2 separate regions of the Homo sapiens genome follow, and region 1 is linked to region 2. Evidence: fine-mapped expression QTL. A gene starts in region 2. The other region holds a variant in brackets. All regions are shown on one strand. Distances are from middle to middle.

Region 1 (8,000 bases), 28 kb before region 2:
TTCCATTCATAAACTAGCTGCGGCCCACTTAGTGCTTTATAGTGTGACATAGCATGTATTCTCTCTCATGAGATAAACTAACAGACTCTTAATTCATGTCACATTTTGTAATGTTTCCTACTAGCTATTTCATTCCCTATGCCCTAAGCCATATCCTTATAAAGGGATACTTGTGAAACAGCTGGTTAATAAAAGTATGACTAAAAGATACTTTAAGAACACCCATTATGCCACATTAGAATTCAAAGAATAACTTTTAGTAGAACCATTCTGTAGACAGACAACTTCATCATTGTTCAAGGATGCCAGAAGAACAATTACACAGGACATGAGGTTTAGAACTAACTATATTTTTAAGATCCAAGAGTCGAGAAAATAATAACCTTTTCAAAAATACTGTATGTCTCTATGTTGGGAAGCAGAGAGGGCTGGGAAGAGGTGGTAAGAAAATATTCCTAAATATTAGACTCATTATATCTTAGATATCTAATGATTTTGGTAATTAAAGACTTTGGTAGTCATGATTACTGAGGGGAGACTTGTGAAACTAAAGGATATGGCAGCCAACATAATGGGGTGTCATGTGACTCACAAAAGCAAGACTGTCTAAAACGGCACTTTGATAATTCATTCAAAGTTCATTTGAAAAACCATAAAATTAATACCATATTCTTGAATAATATATCTTGAATTAGGTTTACCTAATATTCAAGAAGTTCTAAAAACATGTTTAAAATAAGATAGTAACAAGGATTTCCATCAATTTAAAAAAAAAGAAAAAAGGGGGTTACTTGAGAACAACCAAGACAATTGAAACTGGAGCAACTAAATGTACTGAGACCACAAACCAATCTCAAGCTGGGCCTCAGCAGACGTAGTGGAAAAGCTGGAGCCTCAGAGATGGCCCAGCTCTTACAGAGCTTCAAGCCAGGGTGTGGTATACTTAGTGCCTGAAGGGCTGCTGGGATACATTTTCAGTTAAATCCAACAGTGAGTATTAAAATATTAAAATATCATAAAGTATTTAGGAGTCACCTGGGTGAAAGGGGGAGTCATAAATTTAAAGTAAACATAATTAAAATAAGAATATTTGTACTAAATTTGAAGTCCACAAATTCCCATCCTCTTGTTCTGCACTACGATTCTAATTCATCAAATCTCTGTCGACGCGGCTATTTTCAAGCAGCTGAAAGTCATTTTATTTGTGAAGTTATGGAACAAAGAATACATTGTTTTCTTTGCCAGAAAAATATGATCCAAACAGGTCTCAGAACTGGCTGGAGAATGCAAATATCGTAATTAAAAAAAAAAAAGACAGAAAAAAAAAAAGAAAGCCATGACACAGAAAGGAAATGTGGTAATAATGGTCATGACAAAAAAAAAAAGAGGAATCTGAATACCTCTGTTGTAATGCAGTTTGACCACTGACATGCTATGGCAAAAAAGACAGCTTTGTATACATTTCTACATGTGTTGCTAGATCTTGTTTTAGCTACAGAGGGGTACATTGAGAGGAAGAGACAATATCTTGCAGAGAAGATAGCATGGCTTTTTTAAAGTATGAGTTTTCTTGTTTTTTTAGAAAAGTGAAACAGGCCTAGACTACCTGAGCAGCTATTAAAGAAGCAAGAGCAGTGCTCAGAGTATTTAGAAATATTATGATATAAGGCTTCCTGAAGTGTATTCTATAGAACACTGGTTCCGGGAGATATCTAGAGAAAAAGGTTCTGTAAGTCAGACATTTCAAAGGCACTGAGTAGTCTTGAGAAAAAAAAAATTCATTTTGTTTCCCTTGATACTTCCAAATGTTATTAAATTAGTTTTTGTTCCCCAGGAACCTCTAAGAAAAACCCAAGAACAAGTGTGGGTTTTCTTTTTTTTTTTTTTTTTTTTTTTTGGCCACAGTGAGAGATAACTGAACTGGTTTTAAAAGTGGGGGTGTATGAAATATAATTAATAAACAGATATTTTCAAGACAGGCAGAAAACATGCAAATCTCAAGAAAATTTCACAAAACTCATTCTGAAATGTAATTTGCCCTCCTAAATCATTTGGTATTACTGACAGTCTCTAAATGGCCAAATCACTAAGCTATCTAGCAAAGCAAAATAGTATTCTTGTGAATTAAATTCCACAGTCCTGTCACTTAGGCACTAGACCCCACTCAGAACTCTGCATGACACAGGCAAACTTAAGGTTTTCGTTACACAATCCATGGATGCAATTAGAAAATCTAGGAGACCCATTATCAAACCATCTCTCTTCGGAGACTACCTGAGGGTACTGCTAAAACCGACTGGATGCTGAATTCAGGGTTCTACTCTACATCATATCTAGAAACTAAGAACAGCTCTAGAACCAACCTTTAGAGCCTTAAAAACCTGGTCAAAATTTTCAGAATGTTGTAATAACTCCTCTCTCACTACCTGCCACTGTAATTCAAACCAAAAGACTGTCCTGTGGATGATGATATGTGCTGCCTCCCAGATAGAATTTCCTTGGGCTTTTCATGTGCAGGGTGATTTCACAGTGAAGGCTTCTGACCTCTATGTCTCTCCCCTAGACCCCAAGTAGCATCTCTTAGCTTTCACAAAACATTTTCTTTAAGGAGGTGTGGGGCTCTATCAGCTATGGTCAGTTCCTTTTGTCAGGATGTGAAAATATATCATTCAATTTGGCAGAGGTCAGCATTAAAGGAGTAAAAAGATGAGAGCAAGGTGATGCCCCTCTGGCCAGCCAGGGTGGTTACATGTTTCAAGTTCCCAGAATCTAGAGGTGTTTTCTAACATGATTTCAAGGGCTAAATCTGACAGCCTAGGTTTATATACACAATTTGTAAAACACCTGGTGATGGACCTTTATATCTGGTCTCTCTAGACTAGAGGTTCAAAATTAAAGGAAAGGCCAAATCTCAAGTTCCAAGGCCACATTTTGAATGACTTACCTCAACTTCTACCTTTGTGAAGAGCTGGCAGAAAGTAAGCATACAAAGCTGAATGCTGAAGAGAAAAAAGAAAAGTCTATCTTTATACAGTCATGCAAGTATCATCTTATATTATTCAACAATCATTTCTTTATACACAAATACCCTCACATCACACTTCACATATATTTTGCATTTATAAATGCTACACTGCAGCTATAACACTTTTTGGGCCTAGACAACTATTCTTTTTTTTTTTTTTGGGGACAGGGTCTTACTCCGTCACCCAGTCTGGAGTACAGTGGCATAATCACGGCTCACTGCAGCCTCAACCTCCTGGGCTCAGGTGATCCTCCCACCTCAGCCTCCCAAGTAGCTGAGACTACAGGTGTGAGCCACTGTGCCCGGCTTAGACAAGTATTCTTGACAATTATTATTCAAAAGTTAAATCATCAAATGAATACCAAATATGTATTTCAGTCAGAGCCTCAGCTCAACAGACTAAACCACAAATTTGAAGTTTCCTTGACAACACAGACTCAAAGGCCCAAGTCTCTAGAGAAACTACCCAAGGCCACATTTTAAGGTATGTAAATGTGTTTATAAAACTCCTAGGTAGATCATTACATTTCTGAACTGTTTTTTGACATTAAAAAAAATCAATGGGCCTTTCCTTAAAAGTGGAAGCTTTATCAAAATTGTCCCAGTTATTAATAAATGTTTTAGTTATGAGGAAATCTGAAAAGCTTCAAATTTCATTGTAAAGGCAGGCAAATGCTGTCTTTAAAGTGGTTAAGCAACCCTCTAAAAGATAATGTTTGAAATAGTTGTTCCTACTTATAGCTTTCCAGTACATATTTAGACTCTCTGGATAAGACTTCTACTGGATTTTTAGTTTAGTCTCATTAGACAATTGACCCAGAAACCAGGCAGAATGGATTAAACTACACATTTAAAAAAAGAACCAACCAATCTCTTTTCACTGTTAAGAAATTAAAACATAATTTATCTGTAAAAATTACCTGAGGGAACTTATTTAAGGAATGTAGGAGCTTAAGAATTTAGTTAAAAGAAATAATTTAGAAAGTAGATATATCACTTTCATAATTAATTATAAATTGTTAATGTGTCAGTTCACAAATCTTCCATTTGAAAGAAAAAAATCTTTTACTATCTATAAACTCTAAAGTCAATCCACACTATCTAGCATAAGTTGTTTTTAATTATTTAAATGGAGCTGTGGAATTCAATTACTTGAATAGATGCATTCTATTCTGAAAATTCTGAATACTGTGAAAAATATGAAACCACACATAAAATCTCATTTAACCTGTCTTGTC[C/T]ACCCTACAGACAGACCAAATACTTCTTAGTCTGATACAAAACTTCTCTAAGTTTATTCCAAGTCTCCTTTTCCTTGGGATATTCGTTTTGGTATAAAATCTGTTTCTTAGAATCTGTAACTGGAGTAGCACTTTGAGCAAGGGCAATTGAGAAAACAGATTTAGAAGTAACAGACACAGTGCTAATAATATTAAGTAGATGAGAAGACAAAAGTGGACGTGAGATTTGCAATAGATTGAACAAAACAAAGCTGTGCCTTTCAAAGATTTTGTGTTTGTTTAAAAGTCCTGAAAAATTTTTGACTCTCAAAATATTTTTTCTCCCTTTCATTCCTGAATTCTTTCTCCTAATTTCCTTTTCCTCTTCTCACATACTTCTCAGTTGAGAAGGCTAGATTAACTAAACCCGTCTATTATATTTTCTATCCCCAGTTCCTCTTCCAGAAAAGCTTTCTCCTATTTGATCATCACATTAACCTGGACTGCTGGGCAACCAAAAAAAGTCCTATTGGCCACATCACTATCTCTGTAAGGAACTTAACCTGTAAAGGCCCAAAGGATGGCACACCTCAGAAAGTGGAAGTATGCTATGCATCCATTGTTAAGGCACTTCGTTTTCCCAAATACTTTCATACTACCTGTTTCTCCCAATTCTTCCATGTCTAAAAGCAATCAGGAATTCAAAATAAGTAATGGCATGAAACATGTATTTTAGTCAAATGAATAAATTGATTTCCTGGTAAGTGAAAGATAATATGCTGTTTAGATATCCTTTACAATTTATGTTCTTTATGTTTGGCGTTATTTGTGTATCTTCAATTATCAAGGACTGAAGCATAACAAGAATATAAGTGTTTCATATGTGTTAATATTTATTCTACTGTCTCATCAGTTACCTATTCTGATTTAAATTTATTATTTCAAAGCAATGTATATATACACAAAATGGAGAAATTATGCAGTTTTGATTTCAGAAGTTGGTTGGATTACGTTGAAGTTATCTAAAAAAGCCTACAATGTGCTTAAGGCAACTGATGATTTCCTTAAATATTTCCAAGTTATTGTCACCTACCCATCAACAATGTTATCTGAGCTTTGTGCTTAACAATATGAAAACTGGGTAAGACCCTAAAGGAAGTCTTCAAATTCAGGTATTTCATACGGCTCTCACCAAAATTTAAACAGGCTCAGACTTATTCAGAGGGAACTAAACAAACGATCTTGAGAGAAACCAAGTTTCTACATGTTCTGTTCTTTTTAAAGGCCTACTTCACATCAGCTTGCTTAATAATGAAACTGTATTCCTCTTCTCTCTTAAGTAAAGTGCTTATAGAAACTGCTGATTCCAATGCTTTTCAAATCCAAGAGCAGAACTGAAATCTTGGTTAGCTATTTTTTCAACTCATATCAGACACATCATAGCTATTTCAGGCCATATGACTAAATTTTTCTGAATGGCTTAAACCAACATAGTAAGTAAGGATAGAGACACTAGATAATGCCAAATCTGCAATGGAAATAAAACTACAAAATTAAAGCTAACTATGATGCAAACTAGGTCACTTACGAACTAGCAAACACTTGAGACCCATTTGAATGGGACAGATGACTAGAATTTTGCACACAGAAGACTCCAGGGGTTAGTGGTCAAGATAGTGATGCTCTCTACAGAGACTTATCAGTTATAAGACTTAGGGCTCTGATCAGAAATCTTTATGTTTTTAAATATAACAATATTTTTAAAATAATACTTTTTTAAAGAATGAATAAATGATCTTTCTTTTTCTTCACTAAAATAAAATTTATATAAACTAATAATAGACATAAGTGACTTACAATGTATATCCTTGCCATGTCCAGGTCACAGTATCCTATAATAACAAAATTATTTTAGCTGTTGGTCTGGAGGAAAAATACTAAATAAAATAAAGATCTTATTTTAATATGGGGATTCATGTATTTTTTCTGAAATTAAAAGCAACATGTTGAGAAGTAAAATAAATACATTATTGTTAAAGAACAGTGAACTGATCTATGAATTCTTGGATTACATATCTACATAGCAAAGATCTTCCTAATGTCAACAACTTTTGATGAAATGACTTGTTTTAATTTTTTAAAAACTATTTTACATGCTTAGCCACTTTTCTCCTAATATGAACATATCTGGATAATTAATTTGATTACAAAAAACTCAGAATATATCCGTTTTCAAAAAAAAGCTTATTTGGGGGAAATAAAATAATATGAACATACAATAAACTCAAACCTATGGGCAGAAGTACAACAAATAAAAGTTTGATAGATTTTAATTCTTTTTTTAACCATAGATGTCCAAGGTTGAAAAACCAGCCTCTAAATAGAAAACTGATTTGATCAATAACCCTTAATATTAAATAGTAGAGATAACTAATAATTATATCCTGGCTTTTAATATAAATTCTCTAGTAAAGAAAGTTCCTCTCAGAACCAAAACATTCCCTCAAAAATCTTTCTTTAGGAAAATGGTGGTAAAATCAATATTTAGAGGACAACAATGTACCCAACTGGAACAGAAGAGACTACTTCCTGAGTCAACTCTGGACTTTATATGTTAAGCTAGGCCAGATGCAGTGGCTCATGCCTGTAATCCCAGCACTTTGGGAGGCCAAGACAGGTGGATTACTTGAGGTCAGGAGTTCAAGACCAGCCTGGTCAACATGGTGAAACCCTGTCTCTATTAAAAATTCAAAAATTAGCCGGGCATGGTGGCACATGCCTGTAATCCCCACTACTCGGGAGGCTGAGAAAGGAGAGAATCACTTGAACCCAGGAAGCGGAGGTTGTAGTGAGCCAAGATCACGCCATTGTACTCCAGCCTTGATGACAGAGCAAGACTCTGTCTCAAAAAAAAAAAAAAAAAAAAAACCCGAAAAACAAAAAAAGATGTTAAGTTTTCTCAGGTATTTTCTTATTTAATTAAGTTACTTACTACCAAGGCTCACACAATTAGTAAGTACTGAGGCAGTAATGAAAGACCAAGCCTCTTTAATATTTATCCTGCTATTTCAATACTTCTTCACTAGTAATGACCACTGAGTCAGGAAAAATTTCTTTCTAGAGTTAATGAAAATCACAGATTTTTAACTATTCATTCTAATGAGACCCTAATCTGGGAATTAATCACACCAACATGGTGACAACAGAGTAAAGGCTAAGAAAATATCTTCCTGAAGTTCAGTAATAGCAAAATAATATTTAATATTGGTATCAATGGATATGTGCCTATCTTGCAAAATTTTAAAAACTAGATGTGGCGAGCAGAATGAGCTCTCCCATTTGCTTCCACCATTTATCTGTTCACAACCTTATTTATATATTAAAAGGGGTCCCAGAGAATCTGTGCTACTTGGAATACTGAAATTCTTCCTGTGGTAAAATACTGTGCTTACCAGCTTGTTTGGGTATCTGAGGAGGACTGGCTGCACTGGAACTCCTGGAATGAAGGCTCCTGCAACCACATTGAAAGTTTATAATGTGTTTTTATGTGAATAAAAGTTTTATGATAAAGAGAAAATTAATAAATAGTATAAATAGACTGAATATTTTAAGAGTATGTGTAACAGAAATCATTTGCTAAATGTTGGTAAATCCCTAGTGCTTACCAAAATGAGGGATTTTTTTTTTTTAATTAAGAACTACTGAAGCAAAATATTAAATGCTGTGCCTATGCCACTTAAAATATTTGTTTATTCATT
Region 2 (8,000 bases):
GTAAAGCCTGAGATGTTTGCCAAGGCCCCCTTAATTGGTGGGATTCTAACTGTGCCTTCCCTGTGGTGTCTATCAGTTGAAATGTCTGCTCAGTTTCTTCTTCCTTCCAGCTGTTACTTTCCTCCAGAGTCCTTGAAGGCTCCTTTGTAAATACACAGCTCAGGAATCGGCCAAGGTTTTGAGATCATTTATATGCCAATTTAGGGGCTCCCTCATTTCTAGTTTCCTCCTTTCTGGGACTTCCACCTTCGATTTTTAGTCACTTTGATAGTCTTGAACTTTGTGCTCTGATATATCATGTCAATCAATAAGGCTGAGGCTTTCTAGCAATCCCTTCATGTGGTGTCAAGTGATAACCTTCAGGGAAAAAAAGGGGCTGGGGTAATGTTACACAGTATAGAAGTATTATTTCAAGAAACAAATCCCTCCAGTTTCTGTCTGATTTGTGTTGCTCTATAGTGCCTTCGTGTAGTTTTTCATATTTTGACTAGGGTTTATAATTGTTTGTCTACATTGTCTACATTGAGCTACTCCACCATTCCTGAGACTAAAACTAGTCCTGTTAAATTATTATTATTCACTTGAAAACTGACTTACAAATATAATGAAACTTATGCTATCAGTCTTATTTCCTATAAAACAGAATACGTATTAGGTAAGATGAGTAGGAGTTTCAGAACTATAATATAGAAGGGATCTTGGATCCAGGAGATTTTTCTTGAAGCTCTGTGTACATGGTAAGCACACTATTTTTAGCTAATGTTATATTTATTTGAATGGTGGTGCAATGAAGTATGGTGGTATACTGGGGAAGAGTACTGTGGAGAAGATGAGACGACTCAAATTCCCAAGTCACTCTGGTAGGTCACTGGCTGAGATTCTCTTCAAAGAGGTATCATTATTAAAAAACAAGCAATAATCTTGACTGAAAGAAAGGACCATATAGCATAGACCCTGAAGAAAGAGTTGGAATGAGTTTAAAGTATATTAGCATAAGAGTCACTCATGTCTACACTGAGCAACCCATATGGATTTTAATTGAACAAGTTGCAAAATATTAGGCAACTTTTTTTTCTGTGCCATCTTCAAGGTTTGCAACAAATAATAGTGTCTAACAGTAAATCAATTTTGAGTTAACTCATTGACAAATTAAGAGAATTCATCATATTTCCATTTGGTAATATGTCATCTCCATTGGGTGGCCTTCTCTCAGTGTTATTCTCTGGTTTTCCTTCATTACACTTACTAAAACATGAGATTATATATTTTTGTACTTGTTTGTTTAACTATCTTAGTGAAATGTGAGGACAACAGTCCTTAAGCAAGACATTGATCATCATTTAAGATTAAACTTAGTCTAAATTAATCATACTAAGTCATACTTAAATGAAAGTGTGTCCACCTTTTAAACTGGATAATATGGACATTGTTTTTCTACCATGCCTATTCAAATCTTCCCTTTACCCAGATGATTCAAGCCACTGAAACCTCTTGTATCTCTGATCTATATAAATTTAAAAAGTATTTTTAATATCCAGACTTTGTTAAATCCCATTTAATCCAAGTAGTAAATTTTAAGTACAGTATATACTTTGTAGAAAATATATAGGATAACTATCAATATTATCAATATTAAGATCAACAAACAATAACAGATTATTTCACTTAATTGTAGCCCTCCTTTGAGTTATTAATATTCCAATGTAATAGACGAGAAAAGTATAGTTCAGAGAGGTTAAGTGACTTGGCCAAAGTCATACAACTAATAAATGACCAGTTCCTATAACTGACTAGCTATCATTCCATTATACTATAACTCTCAGAGAGTTATTTGGAAGAGATCTTTAAACAGTAACAAACCAGGTGATGGAAAAACTTAATAATTTATTATAGGTGCAATATAAATATTTGTCAACATTCCATGCTGTTTCTTTCCAAAATATGAAGTCAAATAGATGGGCATATTTTCATTTAAGTATGATTTAATTAAATCAGACTAAATTTAATCTTGAACAATGGTCTATGTATTTACAAATGTTTCAGAATGTGAAGACACAAAAAGAATATCTATTAATTTAAAGACATGAGGATCACATTTTTAAACGTTTAATTTCCTCACAAAGCAGTATTACTACATTCTTTATCTTCTTCCTCTCTCACACCCCTCTTCAACCAGACACCCATCTACCATTACTCAAGCCACCACCTGTGTTGTTTAGCTCTGCACTTAACCTTCCCCCACTGTAGAGGACAATGGTCTTAGTGCATACAAGCTGATTGCAAATATTATACTGCTTCAAATCCAAAGTAATGTGTGAGATGGACATGAAAACTTCAAAATTGTTCCCCCACCCCCCCAACCCCCGCAGAACACACGGACAAATGTGGTTAGCAGGGTCTATCTTGTTCTCTGATCACTAACTTCAACAAAGAGGAAGTCCAAAGAGTGCAACTGCCAATGGTAAAAGGAACCCTTTACAAGAAAAAGGAAAGGAAAGGAAACTTCCTTTGTGCATAACAGTATAGCCATTTTTAACAATGGAAAACAGCCTGGGCTACTACTTCTCATGCTTCAACTTAGGAAACGTTTTTAGGTGAAGACTGATTCTGGACCAAAACTTCTTGAACATCCTAAGCTGACTCAGTTGTCCCTTTTCTTTGATTCTGACTTCCCACCCTCCATCATGCTCCTGCTCAGCTAAATCTTTCCAGCCTTACCTGTTGTTCTAACCACAGACCTAGGCTCTCTGCCTTCTGCCTCACTCTTATCCATCCCATACTGACTCCTCTCCTTCCTAAGGCAAAAAAAAAAAAAAAAAGACTTCTTCAAATCTACTCTCCCGTAGTAGATCTGCCTCCCACTACACTCTCATAAACTCAAGTTGAAGCTTCTGTCACAGATTCACAGATTCCTTCAACCTTCTGGGGCATGGAATGTAGCCTGCGCCACCAGCCAGCTCAGTCTCTTCCTGTTTTGGATTCTCCTCTCAGGCCCGCATCTTCCCAGCATCTTCTCTCCTCCCGTGCCCGCTCAGACCATCCTCTAAATGTCCTCAATTCTCAGACACACATCTCCGCCCCTTTCAGGCTCACGGCCCCTCAGAAGTCCTCTCCTCTCAGATCCACTGCTCTTTCTTCCTCTGATGCCTTTGCTTCCCAGACCCACAACGCCCCTCAGACCCACGCGCCCCTCGACCGCCCTCCCCCGTCAGACCTACACCAGTCACCTGGACCCGCCCCAGACCCTGGCTCCCCTCGGGCCACCTCCCTCCTCAGACCCATGCCCCCTTCAGGCCACCTCCCTCCTCAGACTCTCGCCCGCCTCGGACCACCTCACTCCCTCAGACCCACGCCCCCCTCGGCCGCCCTCCTCTCTCAGACCCACACCCCTTACCTGGACCCCCCTCTGACCTAGGCCCCCCTCAGACCACCTCTCCCCTCAGACCCACGCCCCTCACCTGGACCCGCCTCGCGGAGCCGATCTGCGTCTGCTGCACGAAGGGGTTCGGCACCGGCGGCGGGAAGAAGGACGCCTGACGGGGCACCATGGGCGGCCGCAGCCCCACGTTCCCGACGCCGGCACCTGGCACTGTGGCCGCCACTTCCGCCGCCTGGGCGCACCGGCTCATAGTTGAGCCGGGCGTAGAACCCGGCCGAAGCGATCTACGCGGGCGCTGCAGCCAAAACTGAGCCGAAGACCTACTAGAGTCCCAGCCTAGGGCGACGCTGGGGAGCCTCTGCGCAGGCGCTGAAGTTACTTAGACGCCTGCTGCTGCCGCCCTGCCCCTTCGGCTGTGACACGCCCCAGGCTCTGGCCACACCCCCTCAGGCATCTGGCTCCACCCCCTTGGTAATATAGTCCATCCCCTCGGAGGGGAATGTTTTCCTTCCGAGCCAAGACCCTGAAGGGTACCCCAGGATCCCTAACATTCCACAGCGAGACACTAGGCAGAGTTCCCTGCTTTAGGGTCGGACGGACCTGGATTTTCAATCCCTTTTACTGGGCCTGTGACGCTGGCCAAATCACTATCTCTATGAACCTCGGTTGCCTTCCGTAAAATGCAGATAAATGTATTCTCAGATAATCCTAACCTGGATCCAGTAATGCCATTGAGCAACCACTTCCCCTGGGCTGTTCCATTAAGTGAGCTAATATTAATACACCCATGATGGCACTAGGAGTGGAATTTGTTTCACTCAAAACATAATGGACTGACAGGGGAGAGATGGTTCTCCAGAGGAAAACTGAGCTACTATTACCAGAAAAGGCAAAAATTACAGTTGCCCTCCACGCTAGATGAGGAACCTGACCCAGAAAAGGGAAATGTATTGGGCTGTGGCTCCCTTTCACACTGAGGAAGTTCAAGCCTGTTTGGACCTATGTGGGTGCTCGTGGGGGTGGGAGGGCAGGGGTTTGTCCCATTATCTGAGGACAGTTGATCAACCCTGAGTGGCTGAGAGTTAAAGGAAGGAGATGATAATCAACTCATCCCAACTGATCAACTCTTCTCACAGCAGGTAGGAAGGCCAGGATGAAAATCTGAGTCTGAGCCCTGGGGTTCTCCAAAGTTACCCTCTGAATGTCAGAATCTTCCAGCCCTACCACATAGATGTGTGGCCTTGAGTCAGTCACTTAACCTGAGTTTGCTTCCTTGTCTAGGAATGGGAGATTCATTCTAACTCCATAGAATTGTAGCAAGGATTAAATAAAATAATGCATGTGTAGTGTTCATAGAGAAACACTGAAGAAATGGCATGTTTTAAGCATTATTATGTTGTGGAGCCACTGACTTTTCTCTCAGTGTAACAGGGAACATTAATAACAGTGCATTACAGCCATGATAGAAGATTCCCCAGTCTAGGGGGTCTTCAAGTTGGGACTGGCAGACCCTTGAGACTCTTTAGCCAGATACCTGCACAGAAAGATGTCTTTCCAACTGTCAACAACCTAAGCCAGGCCAGGTGCAGTGGCTCACGCCTGTAATCCTAGCACTTTGGGGGCTGAGGAGGGTGGATCCCTTGAGCCCAGGAGTTCGAGACCAGCCTGGGCAACAAAGAGAGACTCCACCATCTCTAAAAAAAATTAAAAATTAGCTGGCTGTGCTGTTGCATGCCTGCAGTCCCAGCTACTCAGGAGGCTGAAGTGGGAGGATTGCTTGAGCCCAGAAGATCAAGTCTGCAGTGAGCTATGATCATGCCATTGCACTCCAGCCTGGGTGACAGAGAAAGACACTGTCTCAAAAAAGAAAAAAAAAGAAGAAGAAGAAACAAAAAGAATCTGAGTCAAGGGGACAGGCCATGGGAGGATAAAAGATAGAAAAGATGGGGCCGAGAGTGGTGGCTCACACCAATAATCCTAGCACTTTGGGAGGCCGAGATGGGTGGATTGCCTGATCTCAGGAGTTCGAGACCAGCCTGGGCAACACGGTGATACCTGTCTCTACCAAAATACAAAACAAATTAGCTGGGTATGGTGGCGTGCACCTGTAATCCCAGCTACTTGGGAGGCTGAGGCAGGAGAATCACTTAAACCTGGGAGGCAGAGGTTACAGTGAGCCGAGATTGCGCCATTGCACTCCAGCCTGGGTGACAGAGTGAGACTCCATCTCAAAAACAGAAAAAAGAGATAGAAACAATGACATCAGGCTCACTGAGGAGGTCACCTGTAGAGTTCACTCCTTACGCACCTTCCTCACCAGCCCCATCATAAGAGGCCAGAAGCAATATATATACTATCAATCAGACTATCGGAGCCAGAAAGGGCCTCAGAAAAACCCCAGGCCTTCAATTTCTGTTCAGCAGTAGCTCCAGAATTTCTATGTAGGAGATTAGGAGTGGGTAGACTGGTAGGAAGGAGTAAGGAGCTTATCCATTAATACCAGCTGTGTTTAGAAGCAAGCACAGTATTTCTCCCTTAGCTGTGTTTACCCAGCGTGGTTTTGGGGGTGGTGGAGGGTAGCAGGAGCGGTTTTGAAGGTGGTGGGGGTGTTTTTGAGGGTGGCGGAGGGTGGTGAGATTCTGGTTTGAGAGCTAAAGCTCCTCTGCTAGGCTATCCTTTGGCCTTGTAGGTCCCTAATAGCTATGGGACCCTGGAAAAATCACTTCTCTTGAGCCATCAGTCTCTTCATCAATAAGATTCAACTAATAATGGCCTTTTTTATTTATGTGGTTGGAAAGGTTAAAATAGGTGACACGTGAAAAGTGCCTTGCACATAGAAAGCACTCTATTAATTGAGGGGGATATTATTGTTACTGTTCATTGTTAGTAGTAGCATTAAAACTGATATGATTGCTAATGAAGAAACAGACTTAAAGAGGAAGCAAACCTCGAACAGATGCCACAATAAAGCAACAAAATTGCTGATTCTTCAGGGCTCTTTCTACAGGACAGAGGGACTAGAGCTTACTCTCCCTGAGGTTCTCTTGCTGTTTACTTTGGAAGCTCTGACCTTTCCAGCAGACACCATCACCTGTGCCCTGCAGGGAGCAGAGATTCGGACTTTTTAAGTTTCCGCTTCTGGCTGGGTCTGTGGCCCTTGTCTAGGCTCTGCTAAAACAGATGGCAAACACGGCCACTCAGTAGGTGTCTTTATTCATACTTGTTGACATTTCCCATGGGGAATGGTTGAAGGGAGGGGCAGGGAGGGCTGAGCGGGAAGCCACGGCTTGGTTTTCCTCCATCCAGTGGAGAAGAGACTCGGTAGGGACATGCTAAGTAGAGTGAACAGGGGAACCATCACTATGTGGGCTGAGATGCACTGTGCAGTGACTTCAGACAACCTGAGTCCTTCTGTCAGGAAATGCAATTTCTAAGTGGAAAAAAAAAACAAGACCCAAAGAAAAAAACAAAGTGCATACAAAGCAAACTGCTAATGTAAGAAAGGTTCTAAGGCAGCCAGCAGTGAAAAGCCAGGGGTCTGGAGTGGCCACCTGGCCATGCCCTGTCCCACTGCCCTGTGCCAGGCTGTCGGGCCACCAGTGCCCTCTTGAGACAGTCTCCATTGGCTCCAAGGGTTCTGTGAGCCACAGAAGGTTGTGAAAGGAGAAGAGCCTGAAGTGTGGCAGCACCAGGGCAGCCCAAAGCAGGGCTGCGTTGAAAATATCAAAGTATCTCTTTAGGGGTGGCTCTGAGGGTTGGTGGGATTGGAGGGGGAAGGGGCGCCTGGGAGGAGTACAGTCAGCATCTATTCTTGGGCACCGGGAGGAGCCACTCTCTGGAATCTTAAATTACCAGGTAGGAGTGAGAATGCTGATTAGCTGTAGAGCTGAAGGCACGGCTGCCAGGCCCCTCCGGGTCCTTCTCTAGTTCTCCAGGCCCGGTGTATCGAAGGCAGTGGAGAGGAAGGGCCTGTGGGAGCCAGGGCCAGCTCAGCAGCCTAGCCAGTCGGATTTGATGCTTCCAAACTTCACGCTCTTCAGACTTTGGTTCTCCAGCTTCAGGTAATAGGCACCCTTGAAGAAGTAGCTGTGACCTGGGATAGAGAAAGAAGAGACCGTGACCCCCTTATCCTGACATTCTGGCACACAGAAGGTTCCTGGGAACTTTGAATTTCTGCCTGGCATAGGGAAGAAGCTTTTAAACGAGAAGAGAGCTTTGAAAGGCTGAGGCAGGAGGATTGCTTGAGCCCAGGAGTTCGAGACCAGCTTGGGCAGCATAGAGAGACCCCCATTTCTACGAAAAACATATTTAAATTAGCTGGGTATAGTGGTACATTCCTGTAGTCCAAGCTACTTAGGAGGCTGACGTGGGAGGGTCGCTTAAGCCCAGGAGTTCGAGGCTGCAGTGAGCTATGATTGTGCCTCTAGCCTGGGTGATAGAGCAAGACCTTGTCCCCCCGCCAAAAAAAAAACTCAACTGTGGCGGGGCGCGGTGGCTCACGCCTGTAATCCCAGCACTTTGGGAGGCCGAGACGGGCAGATCACGAAGTCAGGAGATCAAGACCATCCTGGCTAACATGGTGAAACCTCGTCTCTACTAAAAATACAAAAAATTAGCCGGG

What was found. PIP is the estimated chance that this variant, and not a neighbour inherited with it, causes the effect.
Region 1: its variant is fine-mapped to the expression of LPCAT2 in whole blood (TOPMed, PIP 0.94).

The regions. Positions count from the first base shown.
Region 1 is chr16:55,532,577-55,540,576 of GRCh38, reverse strand. It overlaps LPCAT2 (lysophosphatidylcholine acyltransferase 2), which reads right to left. Exons shown (of 14, transcript NM_017839.5): 6 at 7,695-7,753; 7 at 6,100-6,134; 8 at 2,945-2,999. Among named protein-coding and RNA genes, the nearest start is that of LPCAT2, 28 kb to the right of the region's middle. The variant C/T (reference allele first, on the strand shown) is at 4,264.
Region 2 is chr16:55,504,811-55,512,810 of GRCh38, reverse strand. LPCAT2 (lysophosphatidylcholine acyltransferase 2) reads right to left here and starts at 3,739. Exons shown (of 14, transcript NM_017839.5): 1 at 3,459-3,739. The coding sequence starts at 3,629. MMP2 (matrix metallopeptidase 2) reads right to left here. Exons shown (of 13, transcript NM_004530.6): 13 at 6,120-7,472. The coding sequence ends at 7,369.